7 linked regions of the Homo sapiens genome follow. The protein of the gene in region 6 interacts with the protein of the main gene of each other region in a biochemical or structural test. Each region holds a gene or a part of one and is shown on either strand. Other genes may lie near its edges.

What was found.
Region 1: the proteins of LDB3 (region 6) and MARCHF3 interact in a test that uses a peptide from one of them, tested with the Homo sapiens proteins (one large-scale study listed by IntAct).
Region 2: the proteins of LDB3 (region 6) and MYOT interact in a test that uses a peptide from one of them, tested with the Homo sapiens proteins (one large-scale study listed by IntAct).
Region 3: the proteins of LDB3 (region 6) and GRM5 interact in a test that uses a peptide from one of them, tested with the Homo sapiens proteins (one large-scale study listed by IntAct).
Region 4: the proteins of LDB3 (region 6) and TYRO3 interact in a test that uses a peptide from one of them, tested with the Homo sapiens proteins (one large-scale study listed by IntAct).
Region 5: the proteins of LDB3 (region 6) and TANC1 interact in a test that uses a peptide from one of them, tested with the Homo sapiens proteins (one large-scale study listed by IntAct).
Region 7: the proteins of LDB3 (region 6) and KCNJ9 interact in a test that uses a peptide from one of them, tested with the Homo sapiens proteins (one large-scale study listed by IntAct).

The regions. Positions count from the first base shown.
Region 1 is NC_000005.10:127,027,188-127,032,185, forward strand, and holds the start of MARCHF3 (E3 ubiquitin-protein ligase MARCHF3), read right to left. Parts: upstream 3,372-4,998; 5' UTR 3,163-3,371; intron 3,119-3,162; exon of another isoform or gene 2,737-3,118; intron 1-2,736. UniProt on the Homo sapiens protein: E3 ubiquitin-protein ligase which may be involved in endosomal trafficking. E3 ubiquitin ligases accept ubiquitin from an E2 ubiquitin-conjugating enzyme in the form of a thioester and then directly transfer the ubiquitin to targeted substrates.
Region 2 is NC_000005.10:137,881,020-137,885,430, forward strand, and holds part of MYOT (myotilin), read left to right. Parts: exon of another isoform or gene 1-953; coding exon 954-1,086; exon of another isoform or gene 1,087-2,364; coding exon 2,365-2,572; exon of another isoform or gene 2,573-2,602; intron 2,603-4,411. UniProt on the Homo sapiens protein: Component of a complex of multiple actin cross-linking proteins. Involved in the control of myofibril assembly and stability at the Z lines in muscle cells.
Region 3 is NC_000011.10:88,503,440-88,507,271, forward strand, and holds the end of GRM5 (metabotropic glutamate receptor 5 isoform a precursor), read right to left. Parts: 3' UTR 1,203-3,832; downstream 1-1,202. UniProt on the Homo sapiens protein: G-protein coupled receptor for glutamate. Ligand binding causes a conformation change that triggers signaling via guanine nucleotide-binding proteins (G proteins) and modulates the activity of down-stream effectors.
Region 4 is NC_000015.10:41,565,157-41,569,567, reverse strand, and holds part of TYRO3 (tyrosine-protein kinase receptor TYRO3 isoform 1 precursor), read right to left. Parts: intron 2,209-4,411; coding exon 2,031-2,208; intron 1,352-2,030; coding exon 1,206-1,351; intron 691-1,205; coding exon 546-690; intron 1-545. UniProt on the Homo sapiens protein: Receptor tyrosine kinase that transduces signals from the extracellular matrix into the cytoplasm by binding to several ligands including TULP1 or GAS6. Regulates many physiological processes including cell survival, migration and differentiation.
Region 5 is NC_000002.12:158,974,705-158,979,115, reverse strand, and holds part of TANC1 (protein TANC1), read right to left. Parts: intron 1-4,411. UniProt on the Homo sapiens protein: May be a scaffold component in the postsynaptic density.
Region 6 is NC_000010.11:86,674,616-86,679,026, reverse strand, and holds part of LDB3 (LIM domain-binding protein 3), read right to left. Parts: intron 1-4,411. UniProt on the Homo sapiens protein: May function as an adapter in striated muscle to couple protein kinase C-mediated signaling via its LIM domains to the cytoskeleton.
Region 7 is NC_000001.11:160,087,477-160,091,650, forward strand, and holds the end of KCNJ9 (G protein-activated inward rectifier potassium channel 3), read left to right. Parts: intron 1-9; coding exon 10-341; 3' UTR 342-3,087; downstream 3,088-4,174. UniProt on the Homo sapiens protein: Inward rectifier potassium channels are characterized by a greater tendency to allow potassium to flow into the cell rather than out of it.

The sequences.
Region 1 (4,998 bases), on a different chromosome or scaffold from region 6:
ATCTCTGTGACAATGAGAAAATCTATTTACCCAATTAATTGGGCAGCTCAAAATACTCCTAAGGTGACTTTCAGAAAGTAAGAATCTCTGGGCCTCTGGGTGGGTGGCCTGGGACACTCTTCCTGGCCACAAGCAAAATAGTCACAGCTTCCCAAGGCGATCATTGACCTCATATAGTCTGTAGTAGCCCAGCTGAGGTGCTGGGCTTTGTTCTAGAACAGCTTTTAAAGAGAAAAAGGGTGCCTCATGAAGATAAGGATTCTACCTTGCAGGAGGAAATGCTCAACCATGTGAATTAGGACTGGCAAAGTCACCCCAGAGCATCCCAGGACCCCACCGAACTCAGAGTGGGGGGTGAAGGAACTAAGACTGGGGTTTGTGGGGTGGGTCTTAAATTCATCAGGTCTTGTTTCATCAGGCAGACTTCCTTAGAATCAGGGCCAACCTGGAATAGGGATAGCTGAGGATTCCAAAACACTTTCAGATGTAAGACAAAAGGGGTCCATTGTTGAAGACAGAGAGTTAATGCATTACCTATAAATTTCACAAGGCCAGTAAATGCCACCTGGACATTTCTCAACAATTATTTGTTAAATCAACTCACAGACTATAACTGTTCTTTTATGTCATTAACACAATTCCAGTGTTTCTCAAAGTACAGTGAAGGGATCCCTGGCATCAGAATCACTTGCGGGTGCCTGTGAAAATGCAGATTCCTAAGGTCCATCCCAGACTCCTAAATTGAAACCCTGGGACTGAAGTCCTGCCCAAGAACTGAATTTCTAAGAAACAGCCTAGTTAATTTGGATGATTCATATCAAGGTGGGAAAATTATTATGTCTACATTGTCCATTAGAAATTTAAAGACACTCACAGATTAGTGTTTTGCATGTTTTCCCCAAAATGTTTATATACCATAAAATTGAAAACAATACTTCTTGTGATAAGCCCTTAAAAACCATTCAGTTTATTCCGCCCATATATAATGAACACCATTATTGAAATGTAATTATGAGCATAAAATTATTGGGAAAAATATGAACTATGCTTCTCAAAAATACTGCCTTTATTTTGTCACTAAAGTAATTGTGCTATTAAAGGAATTTATTGTTTTTTAAAGTATCAGTCACTTGGCTGCAAGAACTTATTAAGCTATTATACTCCTCCCATACCCTTTTAGTCATCAGAATTTTTGTGATAAAGCCTTTTTATTATTTTAAAACTATAAATTGTGAATCATTGCAACTAGTGATTAGACTGACTATGAATATATGTCCAGGTTATAAATTCCTAAAAGTATGTTTCATTAGAAATACCAAGGCAGTCTTAATTATAGCCTCTGCAATAAAGCTCTGTTTACTTCTATTAAGGTAGGTTTTTTTTTTTTTTTGGTGCAAAATGATTCAGTTTTAATGCATTATTTTAACAAGCAAAAGCAAACAGTTTCTGATATACATGCCATACTGCAAAGCTGTAAACCCGTGTTGCATGGTGATGTGACAAGCACCACATTTCTGGAGGGATTTTTTTTTCTCTCCTACAAGCTCCCCCTCCCCAAGCCGTGGCTATAATTATTTCACAAAATGCAGTTTGCCATTTCTAGAGACAAACACTTCCTTCTCCCTCACCAAAACTTCAAGTTCAGGCCAAATATTGAATGAAAATAGAACTTGAGAGGCAGGCTTTGTTTGTAGCATGTTGTTTCTGCTAAGAGTTGCCCCCTACCCAGGCTCCACCCCAGTGGTCGGACTGAAGTGTACATGTTATGTTTTAACAGATGGGCCGGCTGGCGGCTGCTGGGCTGTAAAACAGGAACGCGGATTCTGCACTGAGTGGTATTGAACTGAACGCTCGTAAAGTTCATGGACATACTCTGACCCAGACAGACCAGGCAGATGCAGACATGCTTACGCATACACACTCACTAACACCCCACAGCTCAGAGGATCCATCTCTGTGACCCAAGGGAAGTTCAAGGCTGAATTTCCCCTTCATATATTTACCTCATTCACCTTTTAATTTTATATATACACACACTCACACATATACACGTATGTATGTGTGTATATGCGCATCTACATCTTCATATACACATACAGAACTATATATCTCAACATTTTCATGTATTTTCAAAGGTCTAAACATCCCCAAATTCTGGACCTGTTTCTGTCTAGTATTTTCAAAAGCTCTTATTCATGTCAAATAAGAATTGTAAGAAAATATCGTATTGAATTCTGTTTATTCCGCACATAATATAAACTACATGCATGTAGTTGGTCTCAGAAAAACAAGCTGCTTTTACCCCCTTACCATTAAGGGGGGAAAACAATCTAACCCAGACCGAGTCACAAACGGAGTGTCAGGTTTAACCTTGAGTTCTCTGCTGTCAATTCCTGACTCAACTTCATCACTTAAACACGCAGGTGCTCAAACAAACACCAACCGACCAGGCTGGCAATCCCTTTCGCAGCCTCTAGGATTCTCCAAGGCACTGGGCACCAGAACCGACAGCAGCTCCCGCCTGGTCCTAACGAAGTCCTTCGGACACCCCTTGCGGGTGGATGTGGAGGTCCGAGCACCTCAGGAGGGTCATGGATTCAAGTGCTAATAGAAAGCAATTACTTTAGAAAGTTCAAAGCCCAGCAGTGCTCTCAATTCCTCTCAGTAGCTGCAGAGCACTGAAGCCCCCGCTACAGAACCCGGCTGGTACTCCAGTTCTCTGGCGCTGAGACCCACCTTGAGCCCGATGAGCGCTCGCTCAGCCTTGAGATCCAGACGCGGACGCCGGGTCTTACCGTACCGCACAGCGCGGGTAATTTTTCAGGAACCGCGGTCCGCACGCCGCGGGCGCGGAGGCCGCCCCAGCGCTCCATGTCGTTGCCGCAGAGGGGCAGGGGACGCGTCCCGGCCCCACCTACCCATGTCAATTACGCCAAGTTGGTGCGGACTGGAACCGCGTCCCGGGCGGAGTTGGGATGCTTTGACAAGAAGAAGTTCGGGAGTGGGGATATTGGCACGGAGTAAATCCCGCCCAGCCCTGACCTCCCCACAGCGGTCACGCTCGGACGAACGGACCGCCGAGCGCCAGGACGCGTCCCGTCCCCTCTCGCCGCCGCCGAACCGCGCCGAGAGGAGCCGCTAGCCCGGCGCGCGGCCACTCACCGTCCTCGCCGAGTCCCGATAGCAAACCGACGTCCCTGCTGCGGTTCTAAGTGCCAAGTTGCCCCCAGTCGGTGGCTGCTCACGGCCCAGTGGACCAGGGCACATTGGTTCCGGCGGGCACCTCAGGGGGAGTGCGGCAAGCCTGGCGGCCGCCGCGGCCACACAGTCGCCCACAGCGCGCTGACAATTCACGGACCTGCTCAACGAGTGAGGCGGAAAGCAGGGCTAAGCCGACCAGGCTCTGGAGGGGAGGCGGGGCTGCCGCTAGGGGCGGAGCCAGCCCCGGGGCGTCATCAGCCCATGACTGGCGGAGCCGACAGCCAGTCGTGGTGGCGCTGGGACCGCCCCGTAACCGCCGTCCAGTCGCCTGCGGCCGAGGGCAGGCTGGCGGGACGCGCCGGCGGCGGGGAAGTTGGTTATTGCGAAGTGCCGTGGCTGCCGGCGGGCGCTGCGGGACTCTCTGCAATGGGACCCGAGCAGCTCTAGAGGGAGGCGGCGGCCCCAGAAGGCCGTTGGCTGAGAGAGACCAGGAGCCCTCGGAGCCGCCGCGCGCATAGCGCTGTGGAGCAAGAAGCCAACCGCAGCGCGGGTCGACACGCCAGTATCTGGCACCGGCAGGAGGCGCGGAACTTAGCTGCCCCATCGGAACCCCGCCCGGAGGAAGCTGAGGGCCGAGAAAGGATGAATTCCGGACCGGGTCGCCCAGCCACAAGTGGAAACCTGGGCTCTCTGGAAAACGTTCTGATCTCGATCTGGCTATCTCTGAAACAAAACTCCAGCCCCGCAAACCTCCCAAAGTTCAGTACACGTCCCCGTCCTCACCCCTGCCCTCCGGGCCACCTGCAGCGGGGGACTTACCGGCGCCTCGGGTCTCCTCCTCCCGACCCAGCGCGTCGCGGACACAGCTGGCGGCCAACAGGAGGCTTGGGCGCTCGACGGCGCCGGAACCTGTGAGACCGTCGCTCTGGGCGGGCTGCCGTGCGGGGTGGCATCCTCTGCGGTGACTTCTGCTGTCTTTTGGGTCCGCCAGGATTCCAAAATCCCAGGCGGGTCGCTAGAATTATCCATCTTCGTGGACAGGAAGCCCCAGAACGAACCACATCTGTCCCACTCTGCTTCCGCCCTCCTTCCCCTTCGCAAGCTCCTGGCTGGGATGGAGACATCGGACGAGCTCGGAGATCCCGACCTCTCAGGGGTCACTCGCAGCCGAACAGCCTGGAATATGGCCTTGTGGGCCCTTCCCGCCCAACCCCCTAGGACCCCACTGCTCATCTTGTCAACCAGTTTCTGAGCCCCTACCCTGGCTGCAGCACGTGCTCGCACAGGCGCGCTGAGCTACTAACATAGAATCAAAAGCAGGGAGTTGGGTGTTCTTGCTTTCCCGCTGAAACCTAGAATGTAAACAAGCCCTAGACCGTCAGCTGTGGGTGGGTAGGGGCCTCTCCCTGCCTAGAACTGCTCTTGCCATGGGTAGGCACCTAACCCGTATTAGTAAGAATGAAGGAATGCATGCTCATAACAAGAAAGGGGTCAACCTGCTGCCCTGATACTCACCTTCACCACTTACGTCTTGCTTCCAGCGCAAGCCCACTTCAGACCATTGCCTCATTCAGGTCCCAGAAGTCCTAAGGGTTTTAGTCTCTCAGTATGGGCAATTATTCACATGTAAGGGAGCTGCAAGGTGTTATTTCAATGCCATCTGGCCTCTATAAGGTCTTGCATCATAGCTGACCTCTCATGAGAAGGTTCTGATGAGGTCACCAGGGAGAAGGAATGTAAAGGGCTGGTGGCTGAAAAGGAGTGAAATGGCCCCTCTTAGGTGAGCTCTGGCCTGGT
Region 2 (4,411 bases), on a different chromosome or scaffold from region 6:
GACGTTCATCATCAAAACTATCACAGGGGAATTTTTTAATGTTTTGGTCAAATAAGCCAGGATCATGCTTCTATATTAAACAATTTTCTCATGACAATGGAGACCTAATTCTTATTATACAATCTTTGGTGGTAAGAATAATCTGCTGGGTACTGGGCATTTTAATAGACCATTTCTTCATCAATTCATGGCACTGTAAAAGAGAAACTAAGATGTACAATTTGTACCAGATGTTTCTAAATTGCTACCATTTCTAATAGTCATCAAATATGCCACAGGTAAATACAGCCCTAAGGCCTCTCTTCATTGTTATTACACTATCAGATCAAACAGTAGATTCTGTGGTTTCAAATTTGATGGCTAGGCTGGACGCAGTGGCTCACACCTGTAATCCCAGTACTTTGGAAGGCCGAGGTGGGTAGATCACCTGAGGTCAGGAGTTCAAGACCAGGCTGACCAACATAGTGAAACCCCATCTCTACTAAAAATACAAAATTAGCCAGGCGTAGTGGCACATGCCTGTAATCCCAGCTACTCGGGAGGCTGAGGTAAGAGAATCACTTGAACCCAAGAAGCGGAGGTTGGTATAACTGAAATACCACATCTCTGAATATAACTATATACATGTTCACACCACCACTATAGAAAAACGTCAAAAACTTAATTTGGATATTTTTATTTATTTATTTATCTTTGAGACAGACTCTCACTCTGTCATCCAGGCTGGAGTGCAGCGACGCGATCTCGGCTCACTGCAACCTCCGCCTCCCGGGTTCAAGCGATTCTCCTGCCTTAGCCTCCTGAGTGAGCTGAGATTGGGCCACTGTACTCCAGCCTGGGCAACAAGAGTGAAACTCCATTGAAAAAAAAAAATTGATGGCTAAACTATATTTGTGCAAAATGAAAAGCAATGATAATATTTACGCATAGTTGTTACCAAAATATTCTTGTAGAAGTAGATCAACCTCAAGGGGAGATGTGAATGATCAGGATGCAATCCAGGAGAAATTTTACCCACCACGTTTCATTCAAGTGCCAGAGAACATGTCGATTGATGAAGGAAGATTCTGCAGAATGGACTTCAAAGTAAGAGAAGGGTTCAAAAGTACTGGGGGAAAATTAACAATGGGATACTAAGTTTTGAAAAATGTTCTTTTCCTACTTCATAGCTTGCAAAGCAGTACGTACAATGGACAAGAACACAAATTCTGAAGTCAAACTGATGTGGGTTTGAATTCTGGCTCTGCCATCCTCCAGCTAAGCAACCTTAGACAAGTCATTTAACCTCTCTGTGCTTTTGTCTCCTCATCTGTAAAATGGGATAACAAATACCCCAAAAAATTATGAGGATTAATTGAGTGGATAGGTATACCTAATAAATACTTTTATAAGTGAAGCTATCAGAACAATATAATTTTTAAAGTACAATGCCCTTTTTTTTTTTTTTGAGACAGGGTCTTGCTCTGTCACCCAGGCTGGAGTGCAATGGCACAATCGCAGCTCACTGCAACCTGTCTCCCAGGCTCAAGCCATCATCCCAACTCAGCCTCCCTAGTAGCTGAAACTACAGACGCGTGCCACCATGCCCAGCTAGTCTAGAACTCCTGGGTTCAAGGCGATCCACTCACCTTGGCTTCCCAAAGTGCTGGGATTACAGGCGTGAGCCACTGTGCCCAGCCTTAAAGTATAATGTCTCTCCAATTCTCCTCTATCAAGAAATTCAAGCCACCCTGCTTTCTCTTGGCCTAAAAGAGTCCCTCAGACTAGAAAAGCTCTTTAGAAGAGGTTATATTTTTATTATCCTTATTTTGGAGAACTTTTCCTTATAAAATTTTTTTTCCAGATTCCTTATGAACTCAAGTTAGTGTTAAAGCTTTGGATTCCACTGTTAACAGTTTATGTAAAAACACTTAACAAATTGCCATTTATATGCCAAACTATAGCTCAAGAACACTCTGTTTTAGAAAAATTACGCATTAGATCAGGAAGCCTCATATATATGTGCCTCTGGGACTTCATTTGCAGTCACATTTAGCCAGAAAAGCAATGACTTCTATATTCCTTATGGAAACCAATGTAACATAAATTAATGTTCTAAATATAGAAATTAAGAGTTCATAAAGAGACTGAGGTTGCATGTAAAAGAGTTATGGTTTGAGACAGTCTAAAAATACTATGTTAATTTCAAGGATCTTATTTCCAATGTTTTGTTTAAAAAATTATAAATACTTTTGAGCTCTTGCTTTGCATTTCAATCGCAAACCCACTCAGATACGGGAACTGTTTAAATTCATATATGGACAAATAGGTTTCAGTGATGCAATACTTTAAAATTCTGCCATCTCCTTGTGTTTTTCTTTCTAGGTGAGTGGACTGCCAGCTCCTGATGTGTCATGGTATCTAAATGGAAGAACAGTTCAATCAGATGATTTGCACAAAATGATAGTGTCTGAGAAGGGTCTTCATTCACTCATCTTTGAAGTAGTCAGAGCTTCAGATGCAGGGGCTTATGCATGTGTTGCCAAGAATAGAGCAGGAGAAGCCACCTTCACTGTGCAGCTGGATGTCCTTGGTAAGCCTCCAAAGAGACCCTTGAGAATTCCTTAAAATCCAGAAGTATTGAAAAAAAGAAAGTATTTTAAAAGAAAAGCCCAGCAGACTTCATATTTAAGGTTAATGTCTATACAACCTATTGGAATGTCCATTTTTATCTACAAACCACAGGAAAAAATATATATATATACACACACATACATACATATATAGATATGTGAAGGAAAGTCAGTGAAACTAGAATGACAGATCTATCACCAAAGCTTTTCTGGAAAGAAAATAAATCATACAATTTTAGACAAACCAAATAATGAAGCATAAGCATTTCTAGACGTAACTATAGAGTCTCAAAATGAAAATCTTAGTCTAATCATTTCTCTGGTCTTTGTTTCTCCAAAATGAGGATAATAAAAATAACCAATCTGACTCACAGTATTACAGAATTATCATAATCTGTCAAACGTTAAATACATAGTTTAAAAGTGAAGAGTAGGCTGGGTATAGTGACTCAGGCCTGTAATCCCAACACTTTAAGAGGCGCCAAGGTGGAAGGATCACTTGAGCCAAGGAGTTTGAGACCAGCCAGGGTAACAAATAGCAAGATCTTCTTTGTCTCTACAAAAAATAAAAAAATTAGCTGGGCATAGTGGTGCACACCTATAGTCCCAGCTACTAGAGAGGCTAAGGCAGGAGGATAACTTGAGCCTGGAGTTTGAGGTTTCAGTGAGCTATGATTGCACCACTGTACTCCGGCCTGGGTGACACAGTCAGACCTTGTTTAAAAAAATTTCTTAAAAAATCAAGAGTAAATATCAACTTTTAGCCTTAGACTATGTCCTTTTTACTAGGAAACTAATGTCTAATTATAACCAAAACAGGCCTACTTGCTTTAGAAAACAGGTATGGCTACATTTATGTCTCAAATCTGTCTTAAGTAGAGCAGTTCTTATAAAACTGGTGTCTGGTTTTTAAATTTTACACTTTAAGTGCTTTAAATATACAAGTTGAGTATCCCTAATCCAAAAATCTGAAATCTTTAAGATGCTCCAAAATCGACATGACACACAAAGGAAGTGTTCATTAGAGCATTCTGGATTTTCAGGTTAAGAATGCTCAACAAGTATAACGCTAATATTCTAAAATAAAAAAAAAATCAGAAATCCAAAACACTTCTGGTCCCAAGCATTTCAGATAATGGATACTCAACCCATACCATATTTTTAATACTTTAAGCCATTGTATATTGCATAAGAGATATTTTGCTATAATTCACTATTTATTATACAGAAGTTTGATCAGGTTAAAGGATAAACTATTTTCTTGAGTTTATATTCTACCCAGATCAATACAAAATCTTTAAGATTATTCAATAATATACCAAAGGGCCTCAATCTCAGGGGAAAAACTAGTGGGCTGGAAATTTTCAAAAACACATACAATTTAAGTGATTAAAGTTTAGACAAATCCTATTTGTACCAATGGCTTCAGAAATACTACAATAGTAGAGCTGAAAGAGATCTTGGCTGCCATCCGTTTAATCTCATTTCTCCTTCAGAAAAACCAGGGTTATGGTACTGAACTATCGTTTCCTGTCTCCCCTCAGGTAGCTGAAAATAAGGTCATAATAATTACTGATATTCCCACATTCCTTCAGAGTTTACAAAGTATCTCTTTGTTTATTATCTCATTTGTTCCTTACAATTATTTTGTGTGGTAGACACAACAGTCACTACTACCGGGATTTTTTTTTTATAACAATAGATAAAACTGAGACTCAGAGAAACTAAACAAAATTTTACCAATTTGGCATGGCTCATGGAGCCAATAGGTAATTTGAACCCAAGCTGTCTGATACTCT
Region 3 (3,832 bases), on a different chromosome or scaffold from region 6:
TAACTGTATACTAAATACTACATTGACACTAATAATAGCTACTATTGAGCATTTATCAGGAATGTTGAAATGATAGAAACTTCACAGATTATTGTAACTCACTTCTGCATTTAAAGCAAGAGGAACAAGTTGTAGAGAAATCAGAGTGATTTATCCAAAGTCAGTTGGTGACAGGTAAGAGATCCTGGCTTTTAATTCAATGCTATTTCTATTGCATCCGCTGGTTTTAAATGGCCTTCCATAATTTGATGGAGTCTGATAAGGCTCTTTGGATTTTTAGAAGGTAATTTCCTGTACCTGGTTTGTATATGTCACTTCATCCTCAATTTTATGTGAACATATTACCATTCATATCACGTTAGAATAAAAGATACTGAAGGGAAGAGTCTGACAAAACAGATAAAATGGCTTTCTTTGTTAAGATCAAACACATTCTGTATAATATATGTATCTACATATGTATATATATCATTATGCATTTAATACAATGTCAGAAGCATAAATCAAATATATTTTTAAATATACCTTGTTTTTCTCTTCCATACATCAAGCATCTACCTTATATTCTGCTGTTAGTTTTTCACTAATTTGTGTCCAGGGAATGTATATTTGCTCAAGAATCAGTCAAAGTAAAACTTTTTTTTTTTCTGGAAAAATTATGTAATATGCACATACATCTACACACAAACACACATATACACAGAGACACATGCAGATGGACTCAAAAGTCAAATGTCTATATAAATATGTATGTTTGTAAACACACATCTATACACACACAAATAATCTATTTTATCTGTGTGATGTTACCTCTATCAACACATATAATTATGAAACTATTTCTATAATTTGTATGTCTAGATGCATAAACAATGCATATTTCCTATATATTTTTTTAAGTACTTCTTTATGTAACAGTTGTTTGTAGATGTGTTTGGGGACAACATCTCTGGTTGGTTTGTGGTTGGTTTATATTTTCATTTAAATCTATACAGTCCACTGCTTACTTTGTAAACCCCATAATTCAAATGTATAGATCATCCAGTATTCAAGATTAATTAGTATCATGGCTCTTTTCATCTCAGAAAACACTATTAAGACAACATTCTAAACATTTGAGGGGAATAATCTTAAAATCATATTATAGGTTTTTTAATTTTTTTGAAAAGTAACTGGCTTCACAAACACCAAGTACAACATGATTTAGACAACTGAGAAACAGGCAAGTATATTTTGAAGTGCTAAAATAAAACATATTTATACAAGTACAAAGCAAAACAATGCTGATAAAAATGTTAAACTTTATGAAAAAAAATCATTTGCAGTTCACATCAAAATAATTTAACATTCTCTATTATTTTAATAGTACAAGCTGCCACAACAGAGAAAGAACAGATACACGCACACAATTTTAAAACCAAATCAGTTATAAGTGCAGAAAAAAGTAAGTACAAGCACTTTTAGCCCACACAAATCTTTTAGGATTGGCACCATCTTTCTAAAACATCTATAATCTATATAGATTTCTAATTACAACACCATCAGCAGCTGCCATTGATTTCTAGAAATACACACAATATACATAGTATATTTGTTCACATTGGGAAGATCAGTGAAATTCAACCAACTATTTTATACATGCCTCATTCTTCAATAGACAGTAGAGACTCTCCCAGGCCTCAGACCCTCTTCAAAGTGAATTCTGACTTGTCTTTATGCTTTCACTGATCTGTATTTTTTCACAGTATAAAATTGTAAATGGTAACTATAGAGATTCTGACAGCTTGAGGGTTATTAATAAGCTGTTGCTAAATGTGAACTCACATAATACCTTTGAAGTCTCCAAAACATGTACATTTTACTGGGAGACTAGCATAGGAAATGCTTTTGTTTTTTGTTATTCTTAAAAAGAGCATTTAATTCCTGGCTTGGAAGTCACAGAACTGCAGCAGAGCTATTATACAATTCATTTACAGTCAGAAATAGCTCCTAGTCTTCCTGATCACTTGCTGGTAACAGCAGTAGTTTGGGAAAGATAGTTACTTTCAAGGATTAGCACGTTTGGGGATTTGCTTTTTTTCCTTGCTTCAGTCAAATCTCTTATAATTTTTCTTTCCATACTCCCTTTCTGTTCCCCATCCCTAGCCCAGAAAGACGGTTCTTCCCAATCCAGATATGTTCTTCTTAGGCTGCCCCCACTCCTTTCCCAAAATGGAAGGATGAGTGGACTGCTTAGATTAGTCAGTATAACTTGGTTAAACCACGTCTTCTTCTTTCCATCCTGGGACATATCTCTCATTTAGGGTCACTTTGCTGAGCCTTAGCATATCCCCTTCCTTTTAGTCATGCTGGTCCCGACTGAATTATCACTGGGCACCAGGAACAGATTGTTTTGAAGGAAATTCAATGAGAATGTACCCAAATGAATTGTGAAGTTCATATCCTATAGCCCTAGAATGAATATTCAGTTCTCTTTGTACTGTAGAGTTATTACTTGGAACCTGGTATTAGAATTGGCAAAGAGACAGAGTTAGCATCATTCCAAAATAAAAGATCTCAAGAATGCATTACTAATAATCTTATGTCCAACATACAATGTATTCAATGGAGTGGCAAAAGTTATAGAAATACAGAGAAAAATATATCTTGTCCTTTTCTAATTGGATAAATCATTTTTATTATTACAGTTGATTATGATAGCATGTGGAAGTATCAGATGGCAATTTACTTGCATTAAATTTAATTTCTGATGAAGTTTTTTATAAGGTAGTGTGCTTTTTAAGAGATATGTTACTAAAAAAATAGAAAATGAATTTGACCATGAACAAAGTTTAAACATGTTCTTCAACTGGTCTAGAGTGAAACGTATTGTACTTGAGAATAAAATGAAAATCAACATAAGGATTTTATAAAACAAATTTTAAAATGTAGAGCATATCAAGAAAGGTTTTTAATACCTAAGAAGTCAAGATAGGAATCCTCAGGTGAATGCCATCCTTTTGATGAGGATCCAAAGGGTATTAACACCTCAAAAGATTTCCATTTGTTTTTCAGATAGAGGCAGACATTTGCTTTTAATGAAACCATGAAACTTAGCTAGATTTCACTTACATTTTAAAAGCCTCGGTGTAATATTTGGGATCAGGGTGCTGTGATGATGTTATTTTCAAATCTAGCATGGGAGGTTCGATTTCTTTTAAATTAATACTTTAGTACATTAATGTTAGCTTTTAATGTTTTGTATTGGGAGGTTTGACTTAAAGTTGCAAGTAAGAACAAATAGCAGAAAAGAAAACTCAAGCAGAATATTTATTAGAATTTTTTAAAGTGAAGAATGATAAATTATGCCAATGGACTGACTTCTATTTCTCAGTTTATTTTCTGTTAAGTAGATGTGAAATAAAAAAAAATACTTACCAAAGTAAGGATATTGAGCTAAAAGAAAAAGTTTTATTTATTATTCTCTCTGCCAAAATATACTTCTGCCTCACAGCACATATTTTTCATAAGGCTATCTTAAGTATAAGGCTGGGTCAACTGAACTTTAAATTTATAGGACACCTCCTCCATTTATTACTATCCTTATTTAAAAATCAAAACATTTGGTACCTGAGGATAGCTGCAATGGGAGGAAGAAAGAGATGACAGTGGATTCAGGTCTTGAACTATGAATTCTACCTATTTGAGACTATCAAAGCACACTTGTTTCTGTTATACTCTAAATCTCTTTTCTGTAGTTTTAAAAAGTGACAGTATGAAGTGCACAAAATCATATTAATCATTATTTTAAAAAAGAAAATAAGAATTGCTTTGCCTCTTTTTGGAATGGCTA
Region 4 (4,411 bases), on a different chromosome or scaffold from region 6:
AACTCCTAGACTCAAGCAATCCTTCCACCTCAGCCTCCCAAAGTTGTGGGATTATAGGTGTGAACCACCACTCCTGGCCTTATTTGTTTGTTTCTTTAGAGACAACAGACTCACTCTGTTGCCCAGGCTGGAGTGCAGTGGTGCAATCATAGCTCACTGCAGCCTCAAACACCTGGGCTCAAGCAATCCTCCTGCCTCAGCCTCTGGAGCAGCTGGGCTTAACAGGCATATGTCACTACACCAGGCTAATTGTTTTTTTTTTTTTTTTTTAATTTTTTTGTAGAGACAGAGTCTTGCTATGTTGCCAGAGCTGGTCTCAAACTGCCGGCCTCAAGCGATCCCTCAACCTCCCAAAATGTTGGGATTACAGGCATGAGCCACCATGCCCAGCCAAGATAGTTTAAACAGCCCTGGCCTCAACTTCTTCACTCTGTCTGTGGGTCTACTAGGAGGGGAGATGCTACTAGGCTCCTCCCATCAGTCTAGGTTGCCCTTGAAAACCTTGATCCCCTGAGCCTCTGCCCCTCTCCACCTACAAGCCTCACCTGCACGGTCATGAGAAGAGACCACCAGTGGCTGACTCCAGGGTCCACAGCCAACTGCATTGGAGACGCACACACGTACGATCAGGTCCTTTTGGGGATCCCAGCCTGTCAAATTGGCCCTGGTCCCCTCCACTGTCAGCTCATCCTGCAGCCAGGAAAAGCCCCCACCCCATAGTGAGCCTGGGGAGAAGGCCTCCAGCTGGGGCCTGAGGACAGAAAAAGGTCCAGCTGGGAACATGGGAGTATAGGGGCACTGTGGGTTCAGGGGCTGCAGGAACACAACCTTCTGGGAGTAATCACATTCCTGTTCCCGGCTGCAGGGGCCTCTCCAGAACACAAACAAGGCTCAGTCCCGGAATGCACAGGTGGGGGATGGGAGCGAACTGAGCTGGGGACAAAGCCTTATCTGTGCCCTCCCCCAGCTCAAGCAGGAATGTGCTTCCTGCTTTATTTACAAAGTGCACACAGGATGCAACCCTAACAGGAGACATAATCCTTTGAGAAGTGGAGCTTGCAGAGGAGGGTGAGGAGGAAAGGATTCCCTGGGGCTGCGGGAGACCCAGGCCCACCAAAGACAATCATTTTGAAATTCTTAAAGGCCTTAGAACCCTGAAGGCTTATACTCCAGGAGAGTGGAGAGAGGGGAGGGTTCTGTCTTACCTGGGTTCCATTGTCTTGAACCCAGGACAGTTTGTAGGGTCCCAGGGGGCCTTCCAAAGGGGCCTCGGGGATCACTTCTTCCCACTCCAAGATGAGGCCTGAATCTGTGCGGATGGCATGGAGGTTTTGGGGAGCGCTGGCTGGGGCTGCAGCCAAAGAGAGAAGATTGCTAAGACCCCTGCCCTTCCCACCATCATAATTCCATGCAGACCTTTGGAATCAACTCCCAAGAACTAAACAGCTCTGAGAGGCACAAACTGGGGAAGGGTTCACCTCCCAGCTCTGACTGCTCTCACCCACTGTGCTGGGGGAGGGGTAAGCAATGGGCAGGACAGGCAGCACCCCAGCTCGGCAGTGTTGCTCTTCATCACCATGGTTACTGCCTTTCTGCCTCACCCCTTACCACTCCCCTCTCACAGCTATGCCAGCCTCTTTGCAATTGCCAAGCAAGTTCCTGTCATAGGGTCTTTGCACTTGCTGTGCCTTCTTCCGGCAGTGATTTTCCCCCAGATATTTACATGGCTTCTTCTTTATCGTTCAGATCCCAGATCCTTCAGATCTTTATCCTTCAGACCTTTTTAGGGGGGGTTTCCTTAACCACCTGGGGACACTCTTTATCAACCACATTATCTGATCTTTTCCAGTTTGCTTATCTGTTCCACCTACAAGAACTACTTACAAGGTGGTATGTAGTTATATGCAGTAAATGTTTGCCGAATGATGCCTGAACCTCCATCTCTACCAGCACCATTCAGAACTCCAGCCAACACGGCCCCCTTCCCGGCTCCAGCCCTGCCCACCCGCTCTGCTCTATGCATCCCTTACCTAGACCCTTGGTCTGAAAGGGCACCCAGTCAGCATAGGGAGAGGGCCCCAAGGCATTGGCACAGCGCACCCTGAGGCTGTAGTTGGTGGCAGGCACCAGGTCCCGGAGCAGGCAGGTAAAGGGGGGCACAGGGACCACAACAGCCAGGACTTCCCAGCCTCCTGGGGCCTGTGTCACCTACAGAAAAGCAGAAAACTAATGATGTAGGGGAGAGCCTGTGAGAGATGGAAGATGGGATGGGTATAGTTATGGGTGCTTGAATGAATGCTTCCTCTATCAGCAAACACTTGCAACCCACGCCCTCCCATCTGCCCCCACCCCAATAATACACAGGGTTCCACATCTTCATACCTTTGCAAATGCTGTTCCTTTCACTTGGAATGACCTGCTCTTCCTAGCAAAGGCCTACTCATCCTTTAAGACTCAGTGCAAATATCACTTTCTTGGTGAAAGCCTTTCTCAACCACTCCAGAAAACTCTTGTCCTTTTGTACTTGGTACGAAACTCTTAGGGTATACTTACCACTTACTGTGCCTGTTTACATGCCACTCCAAAGTTCTAGAGCTTCTGAAGCTCAGAGAAAACTGGGAGCCTAGGGCACTATGAACCAGCCCTTCATCTTACATTTTGGGGGCCCAGGGCAAGAGTACAAAGAGATCCACGTACTATATGTCTAAATATTTAAACATTATAAATCAGCTAACAAACTATTAAATAGTTTCTCTCTTAATATTTTGACCAATAAACCTTCAAAACAACCTGGGAGATCAGGTTTGCATTTGTAACTCTCCAAATCCCTGGAGTCCCGAGTCAGAATGAGGAGGCACTGGAAGAGCTGGCCTGAAGCCAAGGTCTGCACCATGAGGGGCCTCATGTGCACAGGCGTGGACAATGCTGACTGCATATCCAAGCTCCATTCCCATCCCCCTCACGAATGGCTGCCCCTTGGGCTTAGAGGTGGTCATATCACACTGCGGTCCATCCTTGGGAAGATGGAACAGGGAAAAGGCCCACACAGACCCCAGAAGCAGACTCAGAACCATTAGGGCAAGAGATCCTGAATAGCTATAGTATAGTGTGGCAGTGAGGGGGTCCTTGCCATCTGGATGGGCATATCCTCTTGGCCCTGTAGGCTCTTTGCCCCGGGGAAAGGGGTGTGGCCAAAGGAGGGCCAGAGTAGGATCCTCTTTTTTTTTTTTTTTTTTTTTTTTTTTTTAATAGAGACAGGATCTTGCCCTGTCACTCACTCAGGCTGGAGTGCAGTGGCATGATCTCGGCTCACCGCAGGCTTGACTTCTCAGGCTCAAGTCATCCTCCCACTCTAGCCTCCTGAATAGTTAGAAGTACAGGCGCATGCCACTGTGCCTGGATAATTTTTGTATTTTTTGTAGAGAAAGGGTTTTGCCATGTTGCCCAGGCTGGTCTTGAACCCCCAGGCTCAAGCAATCCTCCCGTCTCCACCTCCCAAAGTGCTGGGATTACAGGCATAAGCCACTGTGCCCAACCTCAGTAGGGTTCTCTAAATGGTGGAGCCCAGAGCAGGGGCCCCTCCTGCCCAGGGGAACTGCCCAGAACAGTTTTGAAAGGTACTCATTAAATGGCCTTTGAGTAAACGGATGAAAATGAGCAAGCCTGCATTGCCTCTTGTTTTTAGTATCACCTTACACAGTTTTTCCACTCTCCAAGGCTTAGGGCCCCTTCTGGTCATCTTGTTCTCTTTGGCTTGAGTGGGGGTTGGGGGGTAAGGTGGAGCATGATAGGGTGAGTATCAGCAAAGGTTTGAGCTTTCACCTAAGTAAGAAAAACTCGTCTGGGTGTGCTGGTTCATGCCTGTAATACCAGCACTTTGGGAGGCTGAGGCAGGTAGATCACTTGAAGTCAGGAGTTTGAGATCAGGCTGGCTAATATGGTGAACTACTAGTCTCTACTAAAAATACAAAAAAAAAAAAAAAAAGTTAGCTGGGCGTGGTGGTGCATGACTGTAATCCTAATCCTAGCTGCTGGGGAGGCTGAGGCAGGAGAATCACTTGAACCCAGGAGGTGGAGGTTGCAGTGAGCCGAGATGGCACCACTGCACTCCAGCCTGGCCAACAGTGAGACCCTGTCTCAAAAAAAAAAAGAAAGAAAGAAAAACCTTCCAGGTACCCCAAATCTGTTCTAGTGATCTGCTTTCCAACCTTATGAATGCATGAGTTTGAGCCAATCTGCAAAGTCACTTAGTTGCCAGAGCACCCCATGATAAGAGACAGTGGCCTGTGTTCTTCCTGCTAAGGAGCAGAGCCTGAAAAGAGCTGCAGACCAAGCCCCCAGGAGCTGGCTAGTGAGTGTGATATCCCTGTCAACAAAGTGCTGGCCATGCAGCCAGAACGAGCATGGCCCG
Region 5 (4,411 bases), on a different chromosome or scaffold from region 6:
CAGGTGAAAGTTTCACAGCAAGATTTTAAGTAATATCTGCAGTTCATCTGAAAAAAATTATATCATATTCCATTTAAGAACCCCAACACTTAAAAACTCATTACACTTAAAAACTCATTGGAAATGCCCTTAAAAATGGCCAACAAAGAAATCTGAGCTAGAAGTCTCTGATGCAAGAAAACAACCAAATTTGATGTTCCCTTGCCTCTAAGGAGGCAATTTATAATGTTCAAAACACTTTATATACATTCTGTCATTTGACCCTCAAAACCCTGGAGACATGTCTGTCTTCCATCAGGGGAGCATATATCTAACATAGCTCAACTTGAAAGCCTACAACTTGTGAACTCTCAACTATCTTTGCATAGAGGGAATACTGACATAGATAACTCTATTCAGCTAAGCACTACAGAGCCCATCACCTCCCATCTCCCAGTGGGGATGCTCAGGCCAGATCCTACCCTGGGGAGTTATCGCCCATGATTTTGCTTTGTGGTAGTTGCAGACAGCTCACTATCTGCAGGCATTTAGATCTTCATACATCTCATCCACCAGGCCTTTCGTGTTACTCCACAAGGACTCTCCCTTGAACTCACTGCATCTGCTAGGATTGTCTTTAATGTTTTTGCACTATCATCCTATGGAACCTCCCATTTCACCTGTGTCAGTGTTCCCATGTGAAAGAACATGGCACTGTAAATAACATGCATGAGGGCACACAAACCAGCCAGGAAATAAAAATTTTCCAGGTCTGAATCCTGGGTCCTGCTGTCTTGGTTCTGTGAGCTCCCTGCCCTCAATCTCCTTTCATGTACATGGAGCTCCCTGCCTTCCTAAGGCTGCCAGAAGGCTGGAGGCGAGACCCACCCCAGAGTAACAAGTCCAGAGTGATGTTTAACAACTGTGGATTCTCTGTCTCCCTTTCTCCCAAAGGAGAAACAGATTGTTTTCTTTTTAAATGAGAAAGGTAAGACAGGACCCCCTACCATCAAAAAGCCTACAACCCATCTGCAAAGCCAATAGGCGAACAACTTAATAATAAAAAGCAAACAGAGAAAGACATTATAATGAATGTACAATGTACTAGGGAGACTAAAAGGAAAGAAAAACTGAAATGTGGAAGCGGGAGTAAATCAGAAAAAATGTTCATAAGAAAGCAATATTTATTTAAGCTAGCCCTTGAAAGTCAAAATTTCAGTGGTGGTGGTAGGGTGAGGGAAGAGGCAAAATTGAAACAAAGTATCAGGGACGGGCAGGAGTTCAGTGGTATTAGCAGAGACAAGGAGAGGACAGCTGGGCCTGCAAACAAGTTAGGGTCCAGATCACAGAGATTCTTGAAAGCTAAGAATAAAACAGGGACAGCTACTACTCTTATCTGTCCTTATATCAGGTATGATGCTTTCAGCTGCAAGTAACAAAAATACCTAACTCTAAGTGACTTAAATTGTGGTATCAAAGCTTTTTTGATCACGCAGGACTATCAGTTAAAAAAAAAAAAAAAAATTAGCCAGGCACGGTGGCTCATGCCTGTAATCCCAGCACTTTGGGAGGCCGAGGCGGGCAGATCACTTGAGCTCAGGAGTTTGAGACCAGCCTGGCCAACATGGTGAAACCCCATGTCTATGAAAAATACAAAAATTAGCCAGGTGTGGTGGTGCACACCTGTAATCCCAGCTATTCAGGAGGCTGAGGCAGGACAATCACTCGAACCCAGGAGGCAGAGGCTATGGTGAGCTGAGACAGCACCACTGCACTCCAACCTGGGCAACAGAGAAAGTTTCCATCTCAAAAAAAAAATTTTTTTTTAATTAAGCCAGGTGTGATGGTGCACACCTGTAGTCCCAGATACTTGGGAGTCTGAGGGGACAGGATCACTTGAGCCCAGGAGTTGGAGGCTGCAGTGAACTATCATCACACCACTGTACTCCAGCTTGGGCAACAGAGCAAGACTCCCTCTAAAAAAATAAAAAGTAAAAAATTTTAAAAACGTATTGAAGCTCAGGAATTTCAGGGGAAAAAATTTATAACATATATACTAACATATTATAAATTGTATTAATTTATGTGTAATTAAAACTAGTTATGAATGGTATGTATACACACACATGAATGTAGTATATACATTATACAACATTTAAAACTTTTAAAGGATGGGAGTCAAACAGTATTTTTAAGTTCATTTTTATTAATAATACAAATCCAAACATAATTTTGTTGTTGTTGTTGTTGTTTTTCAAGACGGAGTCTCATTCTGCCGCCGAGGCTAGAGTTCAGTGGCACAATCTTGGCTCACGGCAACCTCCACCTCCCAGGTTCAAGTGATTCTCCTGCCTCAGCCTCTCGAGTAGCTGAGATTACAGGTGTACACTACCACACCTGGCTAATTTTTGTATTTTTAGTAGAGACGGGGTTTCACCATGTTGGCCAGGCTGGTCTTAAACTCCTGACCTCAGGTGATCTGCCCGCCTTGGCCTCCCAAAGTGCTGGGATTACAGGCATGAGTCACCGCGCTCAGCCCATACATAATTTTTGAGCCACCTTCTTGTCAAATTTGTTTTAAAAGTCATGTTCTAAACTCATAAGAACATTTTCTTGTTCCTTTATACTTATATCATTATCATTACACTTTCTTTGCAAGAATCTTTTTAAACCACTCGCCCATTTTCTGGGGGTCAGTTTAGTTAAAACCAGATAATCTAGCCATAAATGTATTTAGATGGATAGAGTTCACCAAAGGCAAGAATAAGAATGAGGGTACCACTGTCAATTCCACCAGGTTGTAAAAGGCCCAGTCTTCCCTCAGGCAACCTCATATAATGTAAGTTGATAAAAGACTACCAGATATACCAACCAGTGTCAACTCATACATTAAATATTTTAAAAGCTTAATTTTTTCTAACATTCTTGAATATTTTCTTCCCTCCCATATTGGATGATCTAGCACACTCCACTCTGGGGACCACTGATCTTAAACAATAATGAGGCTGGGCACAGTGGCTCACACCTGTAATCCCAGCACTTTGGGAGGCCAAGGTGGGAGGATCCCTTGAGCCCAGGAGTTCGGGACCAGCCTGGGCAACATGGGGAAACCCCATCTCTACAAAAAATACAAAAATTAGCCAGGTGTGGTGGTGCACACCTGTAGTCCCAGCTATTTGGGAGGCTGAGGTGGGAGGATCACTTGAGCCCAGGAGGCAGAGGCTACAGTGAGCCATGATCATGCCACTGCAGTCCAGCCTGGGTGATAGAGTGAGACCCTAGCTTAAAAAAAAAAAAAAAAAAGATAAGAAAGAAACAATAACGAAAATGTTTTTTCTCACAGAAGTTCTGAGTCACAGTGGTTCTAGGGCTGGCTAATCAGCAGCTAAAATAAGTCATTGTGGGCTGGGGATGGTGGTTCACTCTGTAATCCAGCACTTTGGGAAACTGAGGTGGAAGGATTGCTTGAGGCCAGGAGTTCGAGACGAGCCTGGGCAACATGGTGAGACCCTGTCTCTACCCGCCCGCCTCCTACACCCCTGACACCGACAAAAAAAAAAAAAGTAATTGTGGTCTTAGGCCACCTTTAGTCTGCACTCGGTGCTACTTGTTCTCTTGTGCTGACAACCTTATGCTTCAAATATGCCAGGACCTAACAGGCGTCACATACATATTCATTAATGAGTCACTGGCAAAAGGTATGGCATTACTAAAATTGATGGCTTAATCAAAATTCACTCCCTGGGGCAGGGGACGCATCCACCTTACCCTTAAGTACATGGCCAGTGGAAAACTAATCAAAAGCAGGATTATAGTAGTAAGCACAGTCACCCCCCTCCACACCCAACCCTCCATATCTCAGGTTCCATGGCCACAGATTCAACAAACCTAGGTTAGAAAATATTCAAAAAATATTCTAGTAACTGACCACTGGAAAAAAGATAACAATACAATAAACACAATAAAATACAATAAATACAATAAAAATATAAATTTTAAAACAATACAGAATAACAACTATTTATCTAGCATTTACATTATATTAGGTATTATAAATAATCTAGAGATGATTTAAAGTATGAAGGAGGACTGGGGGGTTGGCTCATGCCTGTAATCCCAGCACTTTGAGAGGCCAAGGCAGGAGGATCACTTGAACCAAGAGTTGAGACCAGCCTGGTCTGGTCTCATAGTAAGACCCTGTCTCTACAAAAAAAAAAAAAAAAAAAAAATACAAAAATTAGCTGGGTGTGGTGGTGTGCACCTGTACTCCCAGCTACTTAGGAGGCTGAGGTGGAAGGATTGCATGAGTCCAGGAGGTTGAGGATGCAGTGAGCCATGATCACACCAGTGCAGTCCAGCCTGGGCAACAAATGGAAACCCTTTCTCAAAATAAAATACAAAGGAGGCCAGGCAAGGTGGCTCACGCCTGTAA
Region 6 (4,411 bases):
GAGGAGGAGAGATGATTAAGGAGCACTGTATTGGACGTTGCATGAATGAGAAACTTTTGTTGTTCTGAGCCATTAAGGTTTGGAGGCTGTTGGACATGGTGGCTCATGCCTATAATCCCAGCACTTTGGGAGGCTGAGGTAGGAGAATTGCTTGAGGCCAGGAGTTTGAGGCCAGCCCAGGCAAAGGAGCCCAGACCCTGTTTCTACAAAAATAAAAATATTTGGCAGGGTGTGGTGGTGCATGGCTGTAGTTCTAGCTACTCAGGAGGCAGGTGAGAGGGTCACTCCAGCCTAGGAGTTTGAGGTTACAATAAACTATGATCGCTCACCACTGAACTCCAGCGTGGGTGACAGAGGGAGACTCTGTCTCTTAAAAATTTGCAGGCATCTGCTGGGCGTGGTGGCTCACGCCTGTAATCCCAGCACTTTGGGAGGCCAAGGTGGGTGGATCACAAGGTCAGGAGTTCGAGATCAGCCTGGCCAATATGGTGAAACCCTGTCTCTACTAAAAATACAAAAATTAGCCATGCCTGGTGGTGGGCGCCTGTAGTCCCAGCTACTTGGGAGGCTGAGGCAGGAGAATTGCTTGAACCCAGGAGGCAGAGGTTGCCGTGAGCTGAGATTGCACCACTGCACTCCAGCCTGGGTGACAGAGGGAGACTCGGTCTTAAAAAAAAAAAAAAAAAGGGTGGCCAGGTGTGGTGGCTCATGCCTGTAATCCCAGCACTTTGGGAGGCTGAGGCAGGCAGATCACCTGAGGTCAGCCTGGCCAACATGGTGAAACCCCGTCTGTACCAAAATTACAAAAAAAATTAGCTGGACATGGTGGCATGTGCCTGTAGTCTCAGCTACTCGGGAGGCTGAAGCAGGAGAATCGCTTGAACTCTTGATTGAACCCAGGAGGTGGAGGTTGTAGTGAGCTAAGATTATGCCACTGCACTCCAGCCTGGGTGAGAGCGAGACTCTGTCTAAAAACAAACAAACAAACAAAAAACTGCAGGCTATTTGTAACCTTGATTAGCCTCTTATAACCCCTGCACCCTGCAAAGCTATGGAGCACTTTTCAGACTCCAGGAGAAAAGGGAGATGCAGCAGCTAAGACACAGCAGCATCCCAGAGACACTGCCAGGCTGAAGGGCAGGATAAATGCACCCACTCAAAAGCATCTTAGTGCCAGGTGCTTTGTGCTACCTGGCAGATGTGGAGAGAGTGAGGTAGCCGACAACCCTGCCTGGATGAGCAAACTCAGCTGGGAAATGGGGCAGGGCTTAGGGTTCTGTAGTTGATGTCATACCTCCAGAAGGCAGGGTGCAGGTGCGGGGGCCAGTTCCCAAACCCTGAGCCCCGATAATACCACAGAATGTTACAGTCTGGAGGCCCCATCTTCAGTGTAACCACACAGAATGCCACTGCAACTCCATCCCGGGAATTCCCCATGGAATCTCAGGAAGGCCACACCTCCTGGGACATTACTTGGGATGTCATCGTGGCTCAGACTGCACTCTTGGGGACATCATGCACGATGCCAAATTCTGCACCCCCGGCCTCCAGTAATAGCACACTGAATGCTTTGGTGGCCCTGCCCACAGTAATATCACATGAGATGCAAAATTTCAGAGGTTCTAATAATGTCACCTAAAAAGGCTTGATGGCTGGCCCCTAGTGACATTAGCAGCCCCACCCCTAAAGATACCTCATGGAATGCCAGAGACTCTGGCTGTACCCTCTGTGACATCACATGGAATGGGCTGGCCCCTGCTAATATCACATAGAATGGCTTTATGACCTGACTCCCACCATACCATGTTGGAGGTCCCCAACCCCCATGACATCATGAGGAGTGCCATGCAGGCCTGGCCTTCAGGGACATCACAGGAAAGAGGAGGCTCCGGACCCCACCCCCTACAAGCTGTGGCTGGAAGTGTTCCTTGGCTTTGCCTCCCAAACATGCCCACCAGCCAGTCCTCTGGGCTTCTCTGGGCACATCCCAGTCACCTTCCTGGCTATAACCCAAGGACCAAGCCAGCTCCTAGTGTTGGCAGAAGCTAGATTCAGGCCAAGGCCCGAGAACCATCCTAGAAGGAGCCCAGAGAGGCTCTGGGGACAGTCCCTTGCCCCAGGTGCCAAGCCTGGGTGGGCCTCTGGCCAGGCTCTGGGCTTACAGACATGGGTGGAAGCTCCTGCCAGTCCCCTCACAGGGAAGCCCCTTCCAAACCAGGATGCCCTGCAGTCACCAGTCACCAGTGTCCAGCCCATTCCCAGATGGGCTCTGCAGATGCAGCCCAGGAACTGAGTTGTTTCTGCACGACCACATTACGGGTCACGGAAACACTGCCCTACACCACGTGGGTGATGACGGCAAGACCAGGACAGCCCTCTCCAATTGCTGTGAACCTGCCATTTCAGCCCTAGGGGCTGTGGTGCCCTCTTTTTTTTTTTTCTTTCTCTTTTTTTTTTTTTTTGAGACAGGGTCTTGCTCTGATGCCCAGGCTGGAGTGCAATGGCATCATCTCGGCTCACTGCAACCTCCGCCTCCTGGGTTCAAGCGATTCTTCTGCCTCAGTCTCCCCACAGTAGCTGAGACCACAAGCGCATGCCACCATGCCCGGCTAATTTTTGTATTTTTAGTAGAAAGGGGGTTTTACCATGTTGGCCAGGCTGGTCTTCAACTCCTGACCTCAAGTGATTGGCCTGCCTCAGCCTCCCAAAGTGCTGGGATTACAGACATGAGCCACCACACCCAGCCTGTGGTGCCCTCTTAAAATACTGGCCACCTTGTGCCCACAGCGCCCCTTCCCCTGCCCTGGAATCTGCAGAGACAGGAAAGGACAATATAGAAACAGACGTCTGGACTGCCAGGAAGCCACAGCATCTGCTTTGCAAAGTCCAGCTTGCCCTCCAGGCCCCGCAGGGGCATCTTAGAGCTACTTGAGATTTCTTAAAATACACATAGCCCTTACCCCCAGACTCATTGCCATAGCCTCTATTAATGACAGGAGTGTATTGCTGCCTTGAGTGTAGAGGTGAACAAAGTGTAAAAACCAACATCAGTGAAGGAAAGCAAAAGAGTTTTCTAGACTGAGAGGGGACTCCTGGGGGCAAGTTGAGCTGCCCAGCCAGGCCTGTCCTGCAGAAAATCAACTTTCCCTACTCCTCTATGTGATCCCCAACATTTTATTATAGACATTTTTGCAGATTTCTAGGCAGGAAAAGTAGAAAACATTCTAAAGTGTATACCTGAACACCCGCCACCATGGCTGTACCATAACATTTCACTCGCTTTGCTTTATCACACTCCATCCCTCCACATCCATCAATCCATCTCATTTGCCGGGCATTTCAAAGAAAGTTGCAGGTACCAGCATACTTCTTTCCAGGGCGAATTTTGCAATGTCTGTTCTGTCCTAGTGAACTGCCCATGGGGCTCCCCCACAGCAGGACACCCCCACAGCAAGGCTCTCTCACGGCAGGGCACCCCCAAATGCCCATCTACAGAGAAGGGGTCGTCCCCCTGCAGGGCTGGGTCATTGCAGACCCCACGCAGAAAGGCTGTGGCCTCGGTCACAGAGGAGATGCTGACAGGAAAGATGGGAGTTGTGTCCAGAAGATCATGATGACAGCATGAGCAAGGGCAACAGAATGATATCCAAGAGAGGCTGGGGCCAGATCAGAGGGGCCCTCTGCAGGGCTATCTGACTGTCCTCCCTCTGGAGCTGCCTCAGAGACATCTTTCTCCCACAGGCATGGGTCAGCGGGCACCAGCCCTCCCCACCAGGTCTCCTCACTTCCCCTCACCTAGACCTGCCTGGCTCTCCCTCATCCTCAGGTATGGGCCGGGGGGATGCTTGCTCCCAAGGGAGAGCTCAGCCTCCTGGGGTCTGGTCAGTAGCCAAGCCTCTGACCAGAGGGAAGTGGCTGAGCTGGATCCCCTGCCCAGTGCCTCTCCCCTGCAGCTGTGTCTGCTTGTCAGGGCTCAGCTGGCCTGGCCTTTGGCTGCCCTGAGTAGGGTCCAACATCCCTCAGGGTGGGGGCTGGGGGTGCTGATATCCTCCTCTAGGGAGGTGCTTCAGGCAGGATGGAGGCAGGGACCCTATGGATGATCAGGAGCCATCGGATGCCTTCACCCCACCTCAGGAGCAGCCTGCCTGGGTGGGTTGGAGGGGGGCACCCTCAGACCCTTGCCCAGAGTCCAGGGCTCATGGAGAGTGCAGTCCAGGCACGATGCTTCCACGTCTGTCTTGTCTGACTCCATCCTCCTCTTTCCTTTCTGTGTTTCAGAAAGGGCCCAAAGCACCCAACTCCTTGGAGCTGTGGTTTTTTCTTTTTAATCTTTCTAGCCGCCTTTGAGCATTTAAATGCCTCCCTTGAATGAGTGTTTCATTCCCACTTCACATTTCAGTCTTCTCCCGCC
Region 7 (4,174 bases), on a different chromosome or scaffold from region 6:
TCCTCCCAGGAATGACATGCCAAGCTCGGAGCTCCTACCTGGTAGACGAGGTGCTGTGGGGCCACCGCTTCACGTCAGTGCTGACTCTGGAGGACGGCTTCTACGAAGTGGACTATGCCAGCTTTCACGAGACTTTTGAGGTGCCCACACCTTCGTGCAGTGCTCGAGAGCTGGCAGAGGCTGCCGCCCGCCTTGATGCCCATCTCTACTGGTCCATCCCCAGCCGGCTGGATGAGAAGGTGGAGGAGGAGGGGGCGGGGGAGGGGGCGGGTGGGGAAGCTGGGGCTGACAAGGAGCAGAATGGCTGCCTGCCACCCCCAGAGAGTGAGTCCAAGGTGTGACCAGCTTCCTCCAGACCCCTGTGGCAGACCGGGGGCCAGACACAGATACATGGGGAACTGCATATCGGAGGTGGTGGAGGAGGAGGAGGAGGAGGAAGGCAAAGCCCCTGGAAATGTGCTAAAGTTGGAAAGTCCCCGTCCCCCAGAACCTCAAGTCTAGAAACCAGTATGGAAGGGAGGGGTCCTGATTTCAGGGAAATGGAGGGTGGGGCCGGGTGAAAATGCCAGTCTGTGTTTGACCTTCACATTTGTTCATGAGTGGATGGATGGACAGAATGATGGACTTTTGGGGGTTGGATGGGAAGATGGTAGCAGATAAAGACAGCTGACAGATACATAGATGGACCAGTAGACAACTGGTCCACTCAGGGCTGCCACTAACCTGTAGAACACCCCTGTGCAAATTTTAAAAAGGAACCCTTTTCCTCCAGACAGATACAGCCCCAAACCAGGGTGCATGGCTTGGGGAGCAGAGTATAGGATGGATTGCAGTCCCCAGTCACCTCTTCTGCCAGCCTCCCCACATATGGCACAACTGTCTAATGACACGGTAGGCCAAGCTGAAGTGAAGGAGAAAGGAGCCGGACCAAGATGGGCACATGAGGAGGGTGCCCTCCTAGCTCCACCCTCACCAGGATGAAGGCGTGCAAGGGGCTCAGCAAGGTGTGAATGACCTTAGTCCGCAAGTTCAGGGAAGCAGGCAGAGCGGGGAGGTGCCTGAGCTGGGGCCTGGAGAGGGGCCTGGGAAAGGAAAACCAGGGATAGCTATTTTCTTACAGTGGAGTGAGATCTTACAGGTATCAGGCACAGGCAGGAAGAGAGAGAGAGAGGTTCTGGGGAGGAAGGGCCAGGAGAGAGATCTAGAAAGTGGGTTCACTAGAGCTGGGAAACAGGGAGCCCCTAGGAAAGCAGTGTGTCCTTGGGGCACAGTCATTCACATCACTGATTGGGTGCCATGTGGAGTGGACATTCAAAAACCTGGTTCCTGTCCTCAAAATAAGGGGCACCTGGGAAAACAGAGGAATCTACCTGTGGTGACTGAACGAGGGATAATTCAAACTGACAACCTGTGCAGTCCCGTGGAGGGTAGGGGAGTGTGGGTGATCAGAAGGCTGGGGCCAGTGTAAGGCATAGGGAATATGTAAGTCAGGAGTTAGAAATCTCCAGTGTGCGTTGGAATCACCTGGAGGGCTTGGTAAAACACAGATTTTTGGGCTCCACTCCAAGGGTTTCTGACCCAAGAGGTGGGGACCAAAACCATGCATTCCTAAGAAGTCCCCAGGTCATGCTGCTGTTGCTGGACTGAGGACCACACTTTGAGAACCTGTGCTCTAAGTGAATACTTGGAAGTCGTTTCAGGACATGGGGCATAGAAACTGAGGAGTAGCTGAGAGGAAGATGAAGAGAAGCTGAGAAGAAGCTGAGGATCCTCACAGGAGCAGACAGAGAAATGTGAAGGGTGGGGTTTTATGTGTGGGAAAGGGACCCGAAGCCCAGGCTGAAGAGTTTAACTTTGGGCCCAGAAACTCAACCATCAATGGAAACAGGGCAGTGACAAGTGGAGGGGGTGTCTGGAAGCTGAGCAGGCCCGACAGAGAGATGAAGCCATCAGAAGGACTTGAGGGGGCTCCTGGGGAGGTCGGGGGGAGGTGGAGCAGGAAGAGTTTTAGGGGCAAAGGACAGAACCCCTTGTAGGACTGGAGGCAAGATTGAATGTGGGAGAAAATCGGAGAGAAGCGATAGGAGTTAGAACATCTGGATGTGTCTGCAGCCTGCTGTCAGCCCAATTGGGCCAGGGGGTCCCAAAGACGCATATTCTCACCCCACCTCCACCTGCTTCCTGATCACATCCCAGTCACCAGCGGCAGCTTCCTGGATAGTGAGGGAGAACAACTGCAAGTTGAGAGAGGCAGAGGGGTGGAAGGGACCTGAAGCTGGCCTGGAGAAAAGCATAGGCCCAGGAGAGCCTGCCCTGGGACAGCGCCTGTCTCCCACACAGCAGCACTGGCCCAGCAAGGACCTCCTCCCTTGGCCCTGGCCACATCCCACTCCTGCCCTTTCATAAGCCCCCTGGGGAAAGCACTCCAGTCTTCTCTGTTCCAGGCTGGGCAGATAGGGTCCTATGGGGCACAGCCAGGGTCCTATGGGCATAGCCAGGGCCCTATGGGTCCTCTGGAAGCAAGAAAGGGGGCCATGGAAGCAGCCCAGACAGCTGGGGTTCACTCAGAGAGGACCCAAGTCCCAGTCCCTTCCTTTCAGTCAAAACACGGATATCTTTGCCTCAGGTCACAGGGCCACTGGGGCCCTGTCATCAAAGATGAGATTCCTGAAGCCTGGCATTGACTGGTCCCCTAAGAACAGATGTTGGGATGGAGAATGGGGATTCATTTGGGTTTCAGTAAAACAGGGGGGTCTGGACAAGAGCGGGTGGGCTACTTGGTATCCACACACACGCACTCACACAGGAGCCAACCCATTGCAGCTGAACAAGCAGAGAAACTCAGTCTGGAAAGGCCCCTCCTGCCTGCTGAAGTCACTGAGACCCTGCCACACCTCTCCTCGCCACTGTCACCACTCAGGGCACCACTGTACAGTGCAACAAGTCAGGAGACCTAGGTCCTACTCCTGACACTTGCTAATTAGCTCTATGACTCTGGGCAAATCGCATATCTGGGCCTCAGTTTCCTCATCTGTAAAAATGACAGCAAACTCGTAATGCTCAATAAATGTTTAAATAACAACTGAAGGAGGCCTGCCAGATGCCTCTTAAGGTGCCGTGCAGGTAAGAATTTTAGGATCAGAGAATCCTTAGGCAAGAAAATTCATGAAACTCCTGGGGCACTGGAGGAGGGGTGAAGCTGAAGGGTGGGAGGGAGGAGACCCCAGGGTAGGTACAGGCAGGTGAAGCGGGTATATGCAGGTGTAGTGGGTATATGCGGGTAGAGGGTATATGCAGGTACAGCGAGTACATGTGGGTGCAATGGCTCTGTGGACACACAGGCCCTCCCCTGACTGCCTGTTGTCCCAGCCTGAGTATCAGTTGTGTTCTGAGGCTTCTATTCTGCTGCTATGGGTCAGAAGGAACAACAATTTCAGCCCCAGGGCCTAGTGGGAGGAGTCAGGTCCAAGACTAGCCTGACCAGGAGAATGAGACGTGGGAAGAGTTGGGGAAAGTCTGGGAAGCTCAGAAAAGGCACTGCCCCTGGAGGCCCATGCCCTTTAACATGGGAGAAGCTGGTGCGGGGGTGACCACAGGCAGCTGGAACCTACCCTCCTTTTCTATGCTTCCCTCCCCAAGTAGGAGTCCAATCAGGAGTTGTCTCAGCCCCGACAGTTCAGGCTGCAGATGGAACCCAGGTGTCCCCTCCTGGGGTGGGTGGCATGGCCCATGGAGGCCAGATGGTGTTTGTGGTGGGAAGAGAGGCCTGGGTCATCCAGAATAGGTTGTCAATCCCCAACCACCTCCCTACTATGCACCCTGAGCGTTTTACAGTCTCATGGTAGGGAAGACACAGCCAAGCCTGCTTTTTATAAAACAAGTTTATTCACATTTTAGAAAAACTAATTCCAGGACAGGAAATGGCCTCCCTATAGGATCCCTAAGAGATCAAGAACAGAAGGCCAGAGGGAGGGGCTTGGGAGGGAAGGAGTGGGGAAGGGGAGGCACGTCTCCCATTCTGGGTAGTGGGAGGTCAAATAAATTAAAGGAAGAGTGGACAGAGGGAGAGGGTGTCCAGGCAACCAGAGGAGGGCTTGGAGCTGGGCCGGAAGACAGTCGACACCTGCAAGACCTGAAAAGGGTGCCCGGTGTGGGCTAAGGACAGAGAGCCCTG